3 linked regions of the Homo sapiens genome follow. The protein of the gene in region 2 interacts with the protein of the main gene of each other region in a biochemical or structural test. Each region holds a gene or a part of one and is shown on either strand. Other genes may lie near its edges.

Region 1 (3,653 bases), on a different chromosome or scaffold from region 2:
CAAAATTTCTGGTTTTATTTATGCTGTGGATATTTTTCCAGCCTTTTCCCTATGGGCTGTCTGGGTGCAGGTTATGGGTGATACATGGATAATAGGTGCATCTTGGTTTAGAGGGTAACTCTTTATTTCTTACTGCACTTATGGAACACGAGAAAAAAAAGTATTAAATAATGGCTATGGTAATGGATATCTTTGTCTTATTCCTTACTTTAATGGAATTGCATTTATCATGAACCATGGTGCTGTTATTTCAGATAGCCTTTATCCTGTTAAAATTCTCTGCTGTTTCTAGATAACTACAATGATCTTATGGTTTTCTTCTTTGATCTATAAATATGATGAATATATTGAAAATAGATTTCCTAAGATTGAACCATCTTTGCATTCCTGATAGGAGTCATTATGTATTCACCTTTTAGCAGATAGTTAGAGTCGATTTGGATTGAATGTATTACTGTGGATTGTTCTACTGTAAGTGAGATGATTGACATTGTATCCTTAAGAGCTGTGCAATTCTCATTTTCTAGTCTGCTTCCATTGACTACCTGCATTACTGGTTTCTGAATTGATTCCTAATTAACTACTTCCTGTTTCTCCAAGCTGATGATTTAGTCTCCCTCATCCTTTCTATAGCCAGTTGCATCTTCACTGCTGATTCCCTGCCTCCTTTTCTCCTGTAAGTTCATCTTTTTTTTTTGACGGAGTCTCACTCTGTCGCCCAGGCTGGAGTGCAGTGGCATGATCTTGGCTCACTGCAAGCTCTGCCTCCTGGGTTCATGCCATTCTCCTGCCTGGGCCTCCCAAGTAGGTGGGACCACAGGCACCTGCCACCATGCCTGGCTAATTTTTTTGTATTGTTAGTAGAGACAGGGTTTCACCATGTTAGCCTTATAGCCTCTTTACCTGGGTGTTCTGGAGTCAGGGTGGAGCTGAGCTCTAATGCTGCTGACATTGTTCCAGCCTTCTCTCTATGGGCTGTCTGGGTGCTGGTTATGGGTGATACATGGATAATAGGTGTACCTTGGTTTAGAGGGTAATTCTTCCTTTCTTTAGCTTTTTCTTTTTGAATGGAGGTAAAATTAACGTAACATAAAATTAACCATTAACTGTTTTTAAACGTACAATTCAGTGACATTTATAGAATATTCACAGTGTTGGACAACCATCATCTCTATCTAGTTCTCAGAAATTTTCATCACCTCTAAAAGAAACCCTGTACTCATTAAGCAGTCACTCCCCATTTCCCTTTCCCTCCAGCCTCTGGCAACTATTAATAGTAGTCTACTTTCTGTCTCTATGGATTTACCTGTTTGGGATGTTTCATGTAAATGGAATCATACAATATGTGACCTTTTGTGTTGGGGTACACAAATGTTCATAGCAGCAGTATTCACAACAGCCAAAAAGTGGAAACAACCCAACTATGCATCAACTGCTGAATGGATAAACAAAATGTGGGATATCTATACAATGGAATATTATTCAGTCATGCAAAAAAATGAAGTGCTGATACATGCTATAATGTGGTGAACTTTGAAAACGTTATGCTAAATGAAAGAAGCCAGCCTTTCCTGTGGGCTTTGTGGAAAATAAGCTTAGAAAACTTACAGTTAATCTTGGTATGGGAAGAGCAGTGTAAAAGTCAGAAATCCATTTTTAACCAACACAGACCAGAGTTGACATCTTATCAGCCCATCTCATTTTGTGCACTGCTTCAGCTATGGATGTTAATAAAATTAAATTTCTCACTAAACAAGTGTGATGCCAAAGAACCTTCCACAAGTTCTGCAGCTGTCACTGCTTGGTGCTTAAACATGTTGGACAGTATTAATGCAAAAACTGCTTTTTCTTTTTCAGTAAGAGATGCTAAAAACCTTGTACCTATGGACCCCAATGGCCTGTCAGATCCCTACGTAAAACTGAAACTGATTCCCGATCCCAAAAGTGAGAGCAAACAGAAGACCAAAACCATCAAATGCTCCCTCAACCCTGAGTGGAATGAGACATTTAGATTGTAAGTGGAAATGACTGCAGTGAGCATGGGTGGTGGAGGTTGGGTTATGTGCCACCTGAAATCAGGGAGTTCCTCCTCCCTTAGCTCCTGTTTCCTTCCTTCCCTACCTCCCTCCTTTTCTGTCTTCTCCATCCCTCACTCCTATCTTTCCCTCCCTTCTTTTCCATCTGCAATTTTGTATTGTGAGCCAAGAAAAAAAATTAGAGCTATTTTTTTAATAGAGATGAGAATGCCTGTGGTGTGGGGGAGTGGGTAGGACAGGAAATGGTGTGATGTGTTGCTAAGTGAAGGCAAGTTGTGGGAGAAATGATGGGGCTCAGCAAATAGGGGAACATAACCTACAGGGTGTGGTGACAGCCTCTCTAGAGTTGGGTTTATGGATGATGCTTGGCCTGCAGCCTTCTGGGACATCTCCACCAGCCTCCCTTGAGGGTCTTCCCTGGCCAGGGCTCCAAGAATCTGGGAGTCTCTTTCTTGTACATCTAGGCATCAGGAGTTGGTTATAACAGCCAATTCACTGAGCATATATGATGTGTGACAAACACTGGGTTAAGCGATCCGACTTCATCGGCTCATTTTATTCCCAATGTAGCAATAGGGCTTATAGAGGTTAAAGAGTATGCCCAAAGTCCCATAGCAAATATGGGGTGGAGTGGGATTCAGCTTCTGGCAGTCTGACTTTAGCGGTCATACTTTTTTAGCCACCAGCTAGAAGCACAGTTCCTTGTCCTGTCTCCTCTTCCCTCTCTCAGGGCAAAGCTGGGCCCCTTCTCAGCCTCAGTCAAGGACATGTCTCAGAACAGACAATTTCCCCAGGATTTTTCTCCATGCATTTCCTCAGCCTCATTCTCAACCCACCTGTGTGCAGATATACACATGTACACACCCAATTATGCAATTGATATCTGTATTTCTTATAGGCAATAGGAATTCCTGAATATCCTGAACCCTATTAAGACATAAGATAACAAAAGTAGTTAGAACTGTTCTTGTCATAGCCAGTCTAAGACCTCTGCCTGTTTAAGCCACAGGCTGTCAAACAGAAAAAGCTCTCACTCCCTGGAGAGCTAGCCTGGGATGGAAACTGAATATGTTTCTTTCAGCAGCTTGTAATCTTTAAAACTTTCTACCTCCAGGTCTTGTCCTCTTGTACATTTATTCTGCTTGAGAAATTACTACAACCTCCACTGATGTCTTTTCTTTTTCTCTATGCAGTCAGCTGAAAGAATCGGACAAAGACAGAAGACTGTCAGTAGAGATTTGGGATTGGGATTTGACCAGCAGGAATGACTTCATGGGATCTTTGTCCTTTGGGATTTCTGAACTTCAGAAAGCCAGTGTTGATGGCTGGTAAGTAAGATTTTGCCTTGAAAGCTACCATACAGCTTGCTCCATCAAACGCGGGGTCAAGTATGTTTTCCTTTTTCTCCAAAAATTGAAATACTAAAACAGAGTCCCAAAGTGAAGTCTGGTTGATTGGATCTGCCTTGCAGATATGTTTTGTTTGGTCCTTGTACTAAAAACAAAAAAGAAAGAGGCCAGGCCTCGTGTCTGACACCTGTCATCCCAGCACTCTGGGAGGCCGAGGCAGGTAGATCACTTGAGCTCAGGAGTTTAAGACCAGTCTGGGCAACATGGT
Region 2 (3,653 bases):
GGCTCATGCCTGTAATCCCAGCACTTTGAGAGGCCGAGGCGGGCGGATCGCTCGAGATCAGGAGTATGAGACCAACCTGGCCAAGATGGTGAAATGCTGTCTCTACAGAAAATACAAAAATTAGCTGGGCGTGGTGGCGGGTGCCTGTAATCCCAGCTACTCAGGAGGCTGAGGGAGGAGAACCACTTGAACCCGGGAGGCAGAGATTGCAGTGAACCAAGATCACACCACTGCACTCCAGCCTGTGTGACAGAGTGAGACTCCATCTCAAAAAAAAATGAAACAAAAAATGAGGAAATGTTTCTGTTCACTCACCTGGCTGTCATTATCGTTGTGCTTCATTCTTTTGTACAGTTCCGGATTTCCATCTAGTGTCATTTTCTTGTGCCTCAAGGATTTCCTTTTCCATTTCTTTAGTGCCATCCTGCTGGTGGTAAATGCTTTTATTTGTGCATCTGGAAATGTCTTTATTTCCCCTTAACTTTTCAGAGCTGTTTGTACTGGCTTAGAAATCTAGGTTGTTTTCTAGTTGTTTTCCGTTGGTACGTTCAAGACGTTGCTCCACTGTCTCCTACCAGGTTTCCAGGGAGAAGCCTGCTGTTGGGCACGTCCTGGTTTCCCCTGCTCTACCTCCCGCCTTTGTTCCTGGTTTCTAGCAATTTGATTTTGATGTGTCTCAGTTAAGTCTTCTTCATGTTTGTCTTGCTTGCAGTATCTGTAGTTTTATAATTTTCTTCATATTGGAAATGTTTTCAGCCATCAACTCCTCAAAAGTGTTATCTGTCTCTTCTTTCGAAGACTCCAACTCCCTATAGTATAGTAGGCTGTTTGAAGTTATCCCACCACTCACTAAGGTCCTGGCCTTATTTTTTTTTTTTCCCAGTCTTTTTTTTTTCCTCTCTGTTTCATTTTGGACAGTTTCTGGGACACAGTTGCTTGGAAACAGTTTGATTCTTTTGAGTTTGGAGTGGAGACAGTCTCCAAACTTTCCACATTTGCCGGGAACCACTATCCTCCTCCAGTGCACTGACTGTGGACTCTGGCCACCTTGTCCTCCTTCAGCCCCCAGCTCCATCTCCTCAATGCACGGAGACCACAGCCTCCACCTGGGTCTTCCTCCCTGTGCTGCAGCCTGGACACTTCCCCAGGAGGAAGCTGGGCGGGAAGCAGGCTCTCTCCAGGATTACTGACCTGTGCTCTTATTGTCCAGTTGGGGTTTGTTTGTTTGTTTTTCCTGCCTTTTAAAAAGGTCATTTGAAGGCTGGACATAGTGGCTCACACCTGTAATCCCAGCACTTTGGGAGGCTGAGGCTGGCAGATTGCTTAAGCTCAGGAGTTCGAGACCAGCCTGGCCAACATGGTGAAATCCCATCTCTACTAAAAATACAAAATTAGCTGGGCATGGTGGCATACTCCTGTAGTCCTAGCTACTCAGGAGGCTGAGGTGGGAGAATCGCTTGAGCCCTAGAAGTGGAGACTGCAGTGAGCCGAGATCACACTACTGCACTGCAGCCTAGGTGATAGAGGGAGACCCTGTCTCAAAAAAAAATAAAAATAAAAATAATTTTTTAAAAGTCATTTGAGGCTTTTTCTGTATTTGTACATGCTTTTCATATAGGTTTCGTCTATTTTTCCCAGTGTTTTAGTTTTCTATTTTGGCTGGATGTGGAGATTGTGGTTAATAACTGCTTATTGAATGTATGTGTAGATATGGATTCATAATCTTCTCTTATTTCCCATGCCTCTTTTTCCCCTTCTGTCACTGACATTTAAAAATAAACTCATCAGAAGAGAAGCATGTAGGAAGGCATGTGTGAAGCATAATTTGTGCTCATCCTTCTCTGCTTATCAAAATTGGCTGTTGGAAATTAGCTGGAGTCAGTTTACCTGCCCTTAATCTGTCTGGAGTCATGAAGAAAGAGACAAAACTGAGTTAGGAAAATCTTGAAATAAGCACTGGGCTGGGCCTGGAGCAGGAGGATGAGTGGACTCAGCACAGAAGTGTGGTTGCCTTGCAGGTTGTGTGTCGCAGCCCTGTCGGTGAATAACTTCTGTGACAACCGCGAAGCCCTGTATGGTGTGTTTGACGGAGACCGGAATGTGGAGGTGCCCTACCTTCTCCAGTGCACTATGAGTGACATTTTGGCTGAAGAGCTGCAAAAAACAAAAAACGAAGAAGAATACATGGTCAATACATTCATTGTCATGCAAAGGTAAAACTCAGAGTTCCTGCTTACCTGCTGTGTGTTTTCTTGCTCTTTGAGTGTTTATCCTCTGTTTAGAAAAGCAGGTGCCCAATGGTCTCCAAGCCATGTTTTTTGACTATGAGTACCAAGATGCATTCAGGCAAGTTTGGTGTTGCCCAGGCATCAGGAATGGTGCTCCGGTTTGAGACATACTGATGTTCAGACAACTTTGTAGAAGGCTCAGACAATGACAAGGAATTAGTTTCTCTGAGAACTGGACCTCACTGGCCTGTGTTGATTGCAGATTTTCATCAGATTGTTTGCAATGCCATTTCTCCTCCCAAATCATGTGAGCTGTAGGGGCTTTTTAGACTTTCTGTTGTGGGGACCTCTCTTTGAAATGGACCGTTTCTATCCTAGTTTCTTGGCCCTTATGAAATACTATCACTGGTTTGAGATAGTGCAAACCTTTGTGAAATCAAGATGGTCAGATTTTAGCCCAAGAGTTAAATCATTCTTTATATTTTGTTTTCTCCTTTATTAAATGTTCAAGACAGTGTTACTGGCAGAATCCTAGGCCATAGCCTGGAGTTGCCACCAGCAGCAGAGCTTTAGGTTGCTGTAGAAATTGTGGAATATTGTTTGTAACTCTTAGAGGAATGAGGATTCCTTCATTCAGAGAATTGTTTATTCTTACCACCTTCATGGCTTTCTAGGTAATAATGGAATTGCCTGTCTATAAGTATTGTGCTGCAGACTCACTCATGTGGGACCCAGGAGTGATGAATGTACTGGTATTTGAGGTCATGAGAGCAGTCATGGTGTTTTATCCTTATCTGCTCTTTCTCTCCCTTGATATTCTGCCAGAGCAAGTAGCTTTGTTAGAGGGGTAGAAGTGGTGTCTGGGGAGGAGTGTTCAGAGCAGCCTTTACAGTGATACCTGCATCACAAATGGTTCCTCTCAGAGAGCTTGGTGGAGGCAAGCCTGGGGTGGTTCTTGCTGCTACACTCACCCCTGACTTTCAGATTCTCAGTGAGCATATACAATTAGCAACTGAACAATAATGGCTAATATCCAGCAAGCCCTTAATATGTACCAGTCATTGTTCTAAATTACCTTATGTGTCATAAATTGTTACCAGTTAGCTGGGTAATGTTACTGAAAGTGATGTACAGTGAGGTGAAGCACAGTGCCTACGGGCTAATAGGTAGTGCAGCCAGGACCTGACCTCAGGTTGTGAGACTCCCTTCAAAGGATGTTGTAACTAGCAGGCACATCAGCTTTCCTGTTTTTACCACCCTTTTGTTCTAGAAAAACAGCAAGCATGTATCATATGCACACACATACACATGTGCATACAGACCACAGCACAAACACATCCCTTCACAACCCCCAAAAGGTCTGCTTTTTATGCACCCTCAAGCACTGGGTAAGAATTAAAAACTGAGAACCCCAGTCTCGGATTA
Region 3 (3,653 bases), on a different chromosome or scaffold from region 2:
TTGCTTCTGCTGTCAAGCATGTATACATTTCTTTCTTTATAAAGACAGGTTCCTGAGTATGTAATGAAATGGGCCTGTGAAATCTGCAAACGACAAGGATAAACTACTAGACTTTTTTTTTTTAACTTGATTTATTGATGAAGACTAGTAAAAGCTTATGGGGGGGTGTTAAGTCTGTTCATTATCTGTTCTATTAATACTTAGGATACTTTATTTTGATATATTTGAATGCATAGAATAGATACCATTTAATGAATAAGACGCAGTTTAATTGAACAAGGTTGGAAACCTAATGTTTCTGTATTTCTCTTTTAAAGTTATTCCTTATTGATTTTGGTTTGGCCAAAAAGTACAGAGACAACAGGACAAGGCAACACATACCATACAGAGAAGATAAAAACCTCACTGGCACTGCCCGATATGCTAGCATCAATGCACATCTTGGTATTGAGCAGAGGTAAGTTCGAAAATGGAATGTGCTTATCATAGCCATAGCAGAAGCCATCAATGGGTTTTTGAAATATTTTAGTTTCTTACAATGTCTAAGGATGTTTCTTGGCTGAGGATTTGAAGGATGCTTATTAATCATTTTACCTGCTGCTTTAACCAGTGTAGAGAAGACCGTTAAATGAGGTCTTCTGGATTTTTTGTTGTTGTTGAAGGTTGTCTCTTGGGGGGAAAATACTGCGTGATAGAAAGTTAGAAGCATAAGTGCAATGTTGACGTTTCTTTTTGCAGCTGAAGATAGTACATATATTTTTAGAGCTATTTGGGGCTTTTTATACTTTAGTAATTCACGCTGAGTTTGGGAAGAATGCATTATTTATTTTTAAAAGGAAAATGTTATCAGTGTCCTAATAAACCAAAAGTGGGTTGATGGACCATCTCCTGTTATACTTCACTCAAATATATAAATTAATAGGATCTAGTTTAAAGTAAAAAAAGTAACAGTCTCTGCTCTCTTCCTATTTCTTCACATGAGTTCTAGAGTTTCGAGTTCCTTTCATCTTTTACAGTCACTTTTTGCTCCTTAAAACTAGCATAGAAGTAATAAGTAGAAAAAACAATGATATGCCTCCAGGTTAAAGAACCTCATACCAAGAATTTCAGGCTTAAGAAATATCCATGAATATCTGAATGATCTAGGTTAAACTGTAATGTCACTTTTTCTGTACGCCAAGGCATTACCTATCCTTAAATATATATATATCTAAATATATATTTGTATGTATGTGTATATAGATATGTATGCATGAATACATTCATATAGATGTTCAATTAGTTTTAAGTTGTAACTCCTTTTCAGTACTTCTGAAGTTTTTTTTTAATGAGTTTCTGCAAAACATAGAAATGTCATCCTGCTTGGTTCATTAAGCTCATTTAGAGGGTTGTTTAGCCAAATCGTTTCTGTTCTTTTAAAATTAAATTGTAAGACAGTTGTTTGTCAGATTTTGGATTCCATGGAAAAAGTTTTGTTTAGAGGTAGGTAACACATGAACTTTTTAAAATCACCTTAAATAAGTAGCTTCTTGCGTAAGACACCAAATAGTGTTCCCTCCTCATTTGGGAACATTTCTTCTGGGTACTTGACTTTCTTTCATATGTTTTTTCATAATAATAGTTCCAGTTTATAAAATTACGTTCTCTTTTCTAGTCGCCGAGATGACATGGAATCATTAGGATATGTTTTGATGTATTTTAATAGAACCAGCCTGCCATGGCAAGGGCTAAAGGTAAACCAGACTCACATTATCAGATTTTTCTCTCTCTTTTTTAGAATAAAAATATATATTGGAGAAGATAAGATTTAAGGTCCCTTCTAAGTCTGAGATTTTTCTGAGATATAAAGAATTAACCTTAATTTACTTTTTACCTTTTATCTGGGAAAATGAAACCAGATCATTTTAGTAAGAACTTAGTTCAGCTGAAGAACAGTGTCCTCTAAGAGACAGTAAGCTGGTACCCACTGGTAGCCACTAGCTCTATCTAGATGGAAGTGGGCATGGACTAAGAAAGGTGGAGACTTTCTCATTTTGATGTGTTGCCATTATGTTGAAAATGTATGTTTTTATGTACAGCAAGACCTGTTTATCCAGCAATACATGTCCTAACATTTTGTTTCTATTAGCTAGGAGTTTACTGTTACTTTTGTGAGTGTATGTTAATGATAAATCACCGTATCCTAATTTTGGGTGGGGGTGGGGGCATGGGGAATGGTCTTGCTCTGTTGCCCAAGCCGGAATGCCTGGCTCACTGCAGCCTGAACCTCCTGGGCTCAAGCAGTCCTCCTATCTCAGCCTCCTACCTGTAGCTGGGACTACAGGAACATGCCACCATGCCCAGCTAATTTTTAAATTATTTTTTGTAGAGACAGTGCCTCACTGTGTTGCCCAGACTGGTCTCAAACTCTTGGGCTCAAGTGATTCTCCTGCTTCAGCATCCCAAAGAACTGGGATTACAGGTGTGAGTCACCACTGTTGGTGTGTCCTAAATTTTAATGGCTATTTTGGTACCTTACCAGTTCTTTGAAGGAATACCTGTATTTATTGAGTGGCTGTGAGCTAGTTGTAGTGCTCAGTCCTTGGGTGGGTAGCTTTATCTAATATGAGTATTTTTAGTTTAGAAAAATATTGTGACTTATACAGTTAACTCCATTTATTAATGTCACTAATTGATGAACAAATTTTTTTGTATTAATCTGATGCCTTTGCCCTTGTGTTGAACATGGGTTAAGAAAATGCTTTTCAGGCTGAGCATGGTGGCTCATGCCTATAATCTTCAACACTTTGGGAGGCCCAGCCAGGCGGATCACTTGAGCCCAGGAGTTCAAGACCAGCCTGGTCAGTATGGCAAGACCTCACCTCTACTTTAAAAAAAAAAAATAGCAGGGTGTAGTGTCACATGCCTGTAGCCCCAATTACTCAGGAGGCTGAGCCGGGAGGATTGCTTTGAGCCCAGGAGTTCGAGGCTACAGCGAGCTATAATCGAGCCACTGCACTCCAGCCTGGGCAACCGAGGGAGACCTTGTCTCAAAAAAACAAACAAACAAACAAAAAAACAAAGAAAAGGAAAAAGGAAAGAAAATGCTTTTCAGCTGGGTATGATGATGCACACCTGTAGTCCCAGCTACTTGATAGGCTGAATCAGGAGGATTGCTTGAGGCCAGGAGTTGGAGGCCACAGGGAATTACTGCTGAGCCTGTGAATGGCTACTGCACTCCAGCCTGGGCAACATAGTGAGACCCCATCTCCTTAAAAAAATATATAGAAAGAAAGAAAATGCTTTTCAATTTTGGCCCCAGCCATTTTTACTTAAATCTAATATCCATATATTCCTATTAGACTCACCCTTTCCCTATAGCTAAAATTAAATTCTTAGAGAAGAAACTTACATCAGAAGTTAACAGTTTGGGAAAAATTTTTTTTAGATGTATTATACTTTGATTTTTTAAATTCTGGGTTAAAATTTCTCTTGAATCTCACAGGTATATGTTTATATGTCTAGTGCGTTAAACTACCATGGTTCTTCTCAGTAGCACTGAGTATATCTTTTTTATTTTATTCTTTTCCACAGGCTGCAACAAAGAAACAAAAATATGAAAAGATTAGTGAAAAGAAGATGTCCACGCCTGTTGAAGTTTTATGTAAGGTAAG

The links.
Region 1: of the proteins of PHLPP1 (region 2) and PRKCB, one has a biochemical effect on the other in vitro, tested with the Homo sapiens proteins (one study listed by IntAct).
Region 3: of the proteins of PHLPP1 (region 2) and CSNK1A1, one has a biochemical effect on the other in vitro, tested with the Homo sapiens proteins (one study listed by BioGRID).

What each region holds. Positions count from the first base shown.
Region 1 is NC_000016.10:24,090,934-24,094,586, forward strand, and holds part of PRKCB (protein kinase C beta type), read left to right. Parts: intron 1-1,857; coding exon 1,858-2,014; intron 2,015-3,229; coding exon 3,230-3,364; intron 3,365-3,653. UniProt on the Homo sapiens protein: Calcium-activated, phospholipid- and diacylglycerol (DAG)-dependent serine/threonine-protein kinase involved in various cellular processes such as regulation of the B-cell receptor (BCR) signalosome, oxidative stress-induced apoptosis, androgen receptor-dependent transcription regulation, insulin signaling and endothelial cells proliferation.
Region 2 is NC_000018.10:62,970,496-62,974,148, forward strand, and holds part of PHLPP1 (PH domain leucine-rich repeat-containing protein phosphatase 1), read left to right. Parts: intron 1-2,018; coding exon 2,019-2,213; intron 2,214-3,653. UniProt on the Homo sapiens protein: Protein phosphatase involved in regulation of Akt and PKC signaling.
Region 3 is NC_000005.10:149,509,874-149,513,526, reverse strand, and holds part of CSNK1A1 (casein kinase I isoform alpha), read left to right. Parts: intron 1-317; coding exon 318-457; intron 458-1,654; coding exon 1,655-1,733; intron 1,734-3,573; coding exon 3,574-3,648; intron 3,649-3,653.